2 linked regions of the Homo sapiens genome follow. The protein of the gene in region 2 interacts with the protein of the main gene of each other region in a biochemical or structural test. Each region holds a gene or a part of one and is shown on either strand. Other genes may lie near its edges. The genes, in order: XIAP and AIFM1.

Region 1 (3,819 bases), 6.2 Mb from region 2:
TAAACATTTGGACCTTTCAAGAAAGGTAGCTTGGTGAAGTTTTTCACCTTCAAACTATGTCCCAGTCAGGGCTCTGCTACTAATTAGCTATAATCTTTGCACAAATTACATCACCTTTGAGTCTCAGTTGCCTCACCTGTAAAATGAAAGAACTGGATACTCTCTAAGGTCACTTCCAGCCCTGTCATTCTATAACTCTGTTATGCTGAGGAAGAAATTCACATTGTGTTAACTGTATGAGTCAAACTGAAAATGATTATTGAAGTGGGAAAAAGCCAATTGCTTCTCTTAGAAAGCTCAACTAAATTTGAGAAGAATAATCTTTTCAATTTTTTAAGAATTTAAATATTTTTAAGGGTTTGACCTATTTATTTAGAGATGGGGTCTCACTCTGTCACCCAGACTGGAGTACAGTGGCACAATCATAGCTCACTGCTGCCTCAAATTCATGGGCTCAAGTGATCCTCCTGCCTCTGCCTCCAGAGTAGCTGCGACTATGGGCATGTGCCACCACGCCTGGCTAACATTTGTATTGACCTATTTATTTATTGTGATTTATATCTTTTTTTTTTTTTGAGACAGAGTTTTGCTCTTGTTGCCCAGGCTGGAGTGCAATGGCACGATCTTCGCTCACCACAACCTCCGCCTCCTGGGTTCAAGCGATTCTCCTGCCTCAGCCTCCCAAGTAGCTGGGATTACAGGCATGAGCCACCACGCCCAGCTAATTTTGTATTTTTAGTAGAGACGGGGTTTCTCCATGTTGGTCAGGCTGGTCTCGACCTCCCGACCTCAGGTGATCTGCCCGCCTCGGCCTCCCAAAGTGCTGGGATTACAGGCATGAGCCACCGCGCCCAGCTGATTTATATCTTATCTATGAGAAACACCAAAAACTATGAGTAAGCATCACTGAGTTATCATGTAAGAATTTTTTCTAAGTTTTAGCCCAAATTTCCAGGTCAAGACAAACCCACAGAGAGGTAAAAGGGTATTAGGATGGGAGTTCATATTTACAGCAGGAACTTTACATACATGGTCTCCTTGAGCTCTTGCAACCTTGTAAGATAAGTATTATTTTCCTTTCACAGATGAATAAACTGCTACCCTTTTTTTAACAAGTAGATTTGACTAAAAAGAACTATGTCAAATATTGCTTCCCATTTTCTTATTTCTTTTTTTTTTTTTTTTGAGACAGAGTCTTGCTCTGTTGCCCAGGCTGGAGTGCAGTGGCGAGATCTCGGCTCACTGCAAGCTCTGCCTCCCGGGTTCACACCATTCTCCTGCCTCAGCCTCCCGAGTAGCTGGGACTACAGGCGCCCGCCACCACGCCCGGCTAATTTTCTGTTTTTTAGTAGAGACGGGGTTTCACCGTGTTAGCCAGGATGGTCTCGATCTCCTGACCTCGTGATCCACCTGCCTCAGCCTCCCAAAGTGCTGGGATTACAGGCGTGAGCCACTGAGCCCAGCCCCATTTTATTTCATTTCTCTAACAGCAATGATATATATACATCCCATAGTATATCCTACTGATATACTAGCCCCTTTCCCCATTCAACACCTGTGTAATCAGGAAATAAAACAATGATTCGGGTTTAAAGGGTATATCATGTGAAACTAATGCTGGGGCGGTAGTCTCCATTCATAGTTCAAAATACAAATTTTATCCACTAAAATGGAAACACAAAAAACAACTACTGAAATGTAAATAATATAACAACAAAAATAACAAAATATCATAATACACAGGGCCAAATCACATTATATACACTCACTACACCCACTCTACCCTACCTTAGCCCGTAATCAAAGGGACAGGGGAAAAAACCAAATGTAGCAGGAAAGGCAATATAAAGCTATTAATTAATTAACTGGAATTTAGTTTGTAAATGCTAAAACCAGTTCTCAAAAATTAAGACAATGCTTTTGATCAGCAGACTAAATTATTACAAATAAAGATAAGTACTTATTGCAAAACTACTTGAATCTTTGCATGACTAAAATGTAAAATAAGTGGTGACTTGAAATCCTAGAGTGAACTTTATACAGAAAAGGAATAGTCTACATGTAGACACTGAGAACTCTTGGGAGGGGGAAAAGATTTGGATATGGCTATAGTTTTGACTTTGCAAATGATCAATTTTTGCGGAATTAGATGGAAAAGATCCGGTGCTTTTTATAGTTCAAACACAGACAAATGCTGTTAAGTCTCCAAAAATTTGATTAGAAGTTGGAGTGCTGAGTGATTTTAAGAACCTGAAGCAACAGCATTTCTAAACAATTCTTAAAATAAACTTGTTAGCCACATCAGCGTTGTGCATTAAATTTCACAACTCATGGAGAGGAAGAAAAAAAGTCTTGCTTAACTCTAAACATACAAGTTTTAGAAGAATTTTAATGAAGTGCGGCTCCCAGAACAGGAAAAGCCTTATGTTAAAACAATTCAGTCCTTGAGTCCTTGGCTAACAACTAGATTGAACTACCTACCTGACTTGGAAGTGAAGTGTCCTGGAAAACATATTTTAAAAATTTTAACACTTTTCTCCCCTTGTAGAAAACTTTAAATTTAAAGTCTAGACTATACAGACCAAATTCAAGTTAATGACTATATAACCAAACTAAGTGGCAGACAGTGCAAAGGTGAAGAACTGAGGATTTACATACTAAAACAGAAACAGGGCAGTCATTATTTAATTTTTAAAACTCTCATTTAAATTTGCAATGTTTTAGCCGGGCGTGGTGGCTCAAGCCTGTAATCCCAGCACTTTGGGAGGGCAAGGCGAGTGGATCTCTTGAGGTCAGGAGTTTGATACCAGCCTGGCCAACATGGTGAAACCCCGTCTCTACTAAAAATAAAAAAAAATTAGTCGGGCATGGTGGCACCTGCCTGTAATTCCAGCTACTCAGGAAGCTGAGGCACGAGAATCGCTTGAACCCAGAAGGCGGAGGTTGCAGTGAGCAGAGATCACTCCACTGCACTCCAGCCTGGGTGACAAGCAAGACTCCATCTCAAAAAGAAAATTAAATAAATAAAATAAATTTGCAATGTTTTAAATGAATATCACTTAAAGTAGTAATCAACAGAAGTTAGGAGAACATAACAATACTCTTTCTCTTAGAAAGTACAACAAAAATATAATTTTTTACAGTTTTACTCTCAAACTTTCCTCTGTAGTAACATGCCTTACTCACCTCTACAATAGGTTTGTTGTGAGAATCTTGTAATGTAAACCCTGGACGTTCTATGAAGCATTTTTAAACTTCTAGTTTATACCCTACTGATTCTTATTCAAGTGTTTTTTAAAAAATATTTAAACAACTATTCTTCTTTTCTTGCCAATATTTTTATAATTTCCAAGAGGTTTTAAGGATCTTGAGAGAACATTTATTTCAGAAGTATCTACTACTATTACTAGCCAAGAAAACAAATGTAGGTAGAGGAAAGACTTAACATTTTGTCCTATATACATCTTAATCATCCTAACGGTAAAAACTCACATGAAACTTTAAGATACAAGATGATATGAGAATCTCAACATGGAAAGCTGTCACTATAACTACAAGCAGTGTACAAACATGCTTCTACTTTTACCTACATAAGCTGACAGATGTTTAAAATACTGAGTTAACAAAGATCTTTTAGTAAAGTGACTTAGGCAGGCTTAAACTAGCAAGGATTAAGGATGAATCCTTACTAATTAATTGGAAGATCTGAGACATATTTTATATTTCATTTTACAAAATCAGAAATACTTATTTTGAAACAAGATAAGACATGGTCTACCTGTCAAAAAACTACCACTCAGAAATATTTTTCATCCACAA
Region 2 (3,819 bases):
CAGGCGCCTGTAACCACGCCTGGCTAATTTTTTGTATTTTTAGTAGAGATGGGGTTTCACCGTGTTAGCCAGGACTGTCTCGATCTCCTGACCTGGTGATCCGCCCACCTTGGCCTCCCAAAGTGCTGGGATTACAGGCGTGAGCCACCACACCCAGCCTAATTAAGGTTTATATAGTGAAAAGCTAAACACTGAGATTAGTTCTGGTGAGGGATCCCTTGGTGACCAAAAAGCTGTCACCTGAGCAACTTAACAGCGATGCTTTTTTTTTTTTTTTTTTGAGATGGAGTTTCACTCTTGTTGCCCAGGCTGGAGTGCAATGGTGTGATCTCTGCTCACCACAACCTCCGCCTCCCAGGTTCAAGCGATTCTCCTGTCTCAGCCTCTGGAGTAGCTGGGATTACAGGCATGCACCACCACACCTGGCTAATTTTGTATTTTTGGTAGAGACAGGGTTTCTCCATGTTGGTCAGGCTGGTCTTGAACTCCCAACCTCAGGTGATCCACCCACCTCGGCCACCCAAAGTGCTGGGATTATAGGTGTGAGTCACTGCACCTGGCCAACAGCAATACTTTCTTTCCTTTCTTTTCCTCTACCCTCTATGCCAGGACTCCTTAGAAATAAAATATTAAGGAAAGTGAGTTATGAAGATGATAAGGGCAATGCAGACTACAGAATTATGGGTGTCTTTGAACTGCTGCTTCCTGTAAAATGCCAAAAACTTCTTTGGGCACATGATGGTTCCCAGCTTGAGAGATCTGTGAGCTCCAGTTGGAATGTTTCATGGCAACTAGTTTTCTTAATGTTCTTTTTCAGATATATGAAATCAGGGCATCTTTTCAGGAGGATGCTTCCTATTCAGAGGTTGCAAAGCACTTATGTAAGCCTTAGGTGACTGCATGGGTGGAAGTGCACAGAGTTCACCATCTGAAGCTTAATCTGGGGCCAGCAGTTCTGATACCTGTTGTATTTGCGTTACAAATGAACTTGAGCACCGAGGCCCTCATGCCCACTGTCCTGTAAGTGGGCGCTCGGCCTGGATTGCAGCTCTGCCCTGTCTGTAGTGAGGGCTGCCTGCTGCTCCTTTACTTCTCTTCCTGTATTCCTAGGATTGACTTTTGCTTCCTGCTGTAACTACTCTGTTTCTTCTTCCCAGCTCGAGCCTTGGGCACAGAAGTGATTCAACTCTTCCCCGAGAAAGGAAATATGGGAAAGATCCTCCCCGAATACCTCAGCAACTGGACCATGGAAAAAGTCAGACGAGGTAGAGAGACTGTTTCTATATGCTGCCACTCTATTTCCTTTGAGTGTGACCTAAGGCAAACTTCGCTTCTATAGGAACCCCCTTGACATAAGCCCTATCACCTGGCCTGTAAAATGTTTCCACCATTCTCCAGTCAGCTAAGTTCATCTAGGTGTTCTGAATCAGATGCCCCAAATTCCTGGAAGTGCTGAAAATGAACCATGGGTGTAGGTTCTTGCAGCTCTCCAAAACTGCCTGTGTACTGATAATTGGTTTTACCGTGGAGGAGACCGCTGGTCAGCTTTCCTACTTCCCATGAAAGTGATAGCCTTGTAGGCTCACTCTCAGGTCTTGTTTGCCTTTACAGAGGGGGTTAAGGTGATGCCCAATGCTATTGTGCAATCCGTTGGAGTCAGCAGTGGCAAGTTACTTATCAAGCTGAAAGACGGCAGGAAGGTAAGGAAGGAAAAGATAGTCTGCCAAGAGGCCTTCCAGTTCTCCACTCCCCTTGCCTCATTTTTACTCCTTCATTTGACACCAGTAGATTAGTTTTCCTGGCAGTTGCCATTAACCTGATATAATTTTCCGAATTAACCATCCCTCCATTAAAACAGAATGATGAGAGCCAGAGTAGGCTCCTGTGAACCACTTTCCCTTAGCCCCATTCTATCTGTCTCACAGAGTTTTGAGTCCTGGCTAGGGTGGCAGATTTCTGTTCGAATGACATGGGGGATGTGCATGGGATGGGGTGGTGGAGGCTTATGAAATAGAACTTAAAATCCATTTATCAGAGGTAAGTTAACCCATGATTTTTTAAAGTCCCAATTCTTAATGGCATGAAGGGCCATTGTTACGCCTGTAGGCATAAATGGAAACTGTGGTAATTGACTGAATTATTTCTTTTTTGCCTCAGGTAGAAACTGACCACATAGTGGCAGCTGTGGGCCTGGAGCCCAATGTTGAGTTGGCCAAGACTGGTGGCCTGGAAATAGACTCAGATTTTGGTGGCTTCCGGGTAAATGCAGAGCTACAAGCACGCTCTAACATCTGGGTGGTAAGTGTGCTACAGCATGACCAGGCATAATTCATTCTCCCTAGCCTGTGAACAAGTCTGCCCGGTGGTGTGCTAAAGCTCATCAACAGCCTAACCAAATAGGGTCAGAGTGTTTGGAGGCTGAGGGTACAGAATAGAAATGTGTGAACTGCTTGATTCAGAAGACCAGGTATGGCCTCATCTGCAAGCTAGTGGCAGATGAAATGAACAGTGTGCATGCCTGCAGGGGTAGAGCTCTTCCGGTTCTACTTATTGGCAGCAGCTACTGGCATAACCCCTGGTGGGCATGCACATAAGCCTTCAGATGGATCTGCTGTTCCCTTTGCTCAAACTTGAATCCGGAGGATGGAGGATGAAGCAATGTTATAACCTGTTCCCTAGAAAGGAAAATTACTCTGTTTTCATTTTCCTTGAGTACTATTTTTAGCTGTTTTTTACAATCTATTATGACATAAACAAGACTATAGTATGTAGGAACCATGAGGTAATTTCCCCATTGCTAGTTACAAGTGTATTGTGTTTGTTTATGGACTCTGCAACTAAGGACGTAGGTACCTTGGAGGAATTTTTTTCCCCCTCCAAACCTTGTTTTTTTTTTTTTTTTTAAAAAAAAAAAGATGTACTGGATCTTTTTAACCTGTTATAAAAGTAATACGTGGGCCAGGAGAAGTGGCTTACACCTGTAATCCCAGCACTTTGGGAGGCTGAGGCAGGTGGATCACTTGAGATCAGGAGTTTGAGACCAGCCTGGCTAACATGGTGAAACCCTGTCTCTCCTAAAAATACAAAAATTAGCCGGGTGTGGTGGCACAGGCCTGTAATCCCAGCTACTTGGGAGGCTGAGTGAGGCAGGAGAATCACTTGAACTAAGGAGGCAGAGGCTGCAGTGAGTGGAGATCATGCCACTGCCCTCCAGCCTGGGCAACAACAGAGCAAGACTCAGTCTCAAAAAAAAAAAAAAAGTAATATGTGGTCAATGTAGAAGACAGACAAGAAGGAGAGAGGAGAGGAAAGTCACCTGCAGCAACCATTAATATTTTGGTGTATTTCCTTCCCTGTGTTTCCTTGCATGTAGGTTTTATTGTTGGTTTGTTTTATTCGTGGCAAGCATACTATATATAATATTCTGCTCTTTTCCACTTAACACCATAAATGTAAGCATTTTCTATGTTGCTTCAGACTTTGTAAACAGTTTAATGACTATATATTCCATTAAGCGAATTTCACAGTTTACGGTTGCTCACTCGTTGGATTTTTAGGTTGCTTTGGGGGAGTCTAAATAGCCACAAAGATGAACAAAGGGTTAGAGAGCTCAAATGCCACATCCTTCATGAAGCTGGTCCAGTTCACCCCCGGCTGGAGGTTCTCGCCCTCTGCTTGAAATACTTGACTCCTTTAATCTGTACCTCTCATATGGCACACTACTGTTTACATTGCTCTGTAGTTGTGAGCAAGGCTGTATCTTTCTGTACTAGGTTGTATGCTCCTCATAGTCAAGGTCCATGTCAGTTTTGTCTCAGC

What was found.
Region 1: of the proteins of AIFM1 (region 2) and XIAP, one has a biochemical effect on the other in vitro, tested with the Homo sapiens proteins (one study listed by BioGRID).

What each region holds. Positions count from the first base shown.
Region 1 is NC_000023.11:123,908,234-123,912,052, reverse strand, and holds part of XIAP (E3 ubiquitin-protein ligase XIAP), read right to left. Parts: 3' UTR 1-3,819.
Region 2 is NC_000023.11:130,134,524-130,138,342, reverse strand, and holds part of AIFM1 (apoptosis-inducing factor 1, mitochondrial isoform AIF precursor), read left to right. Parts: intron 1-302; exon of another isoform or gene 303-817; coding exon of another isoform or gene 818-825; exon of another isoform or gene 826-1,157; coding exon 1,158-1,265; intron 1,266-1,611; coding exon 1,612-1,700; intron 1,701-2,157; coding exon 2,158-2,298; intron 2,299-3,819. UniProt on the Homo sapiens protein: Functions both as NADH oxidoreductase and as regulator of apoptosis.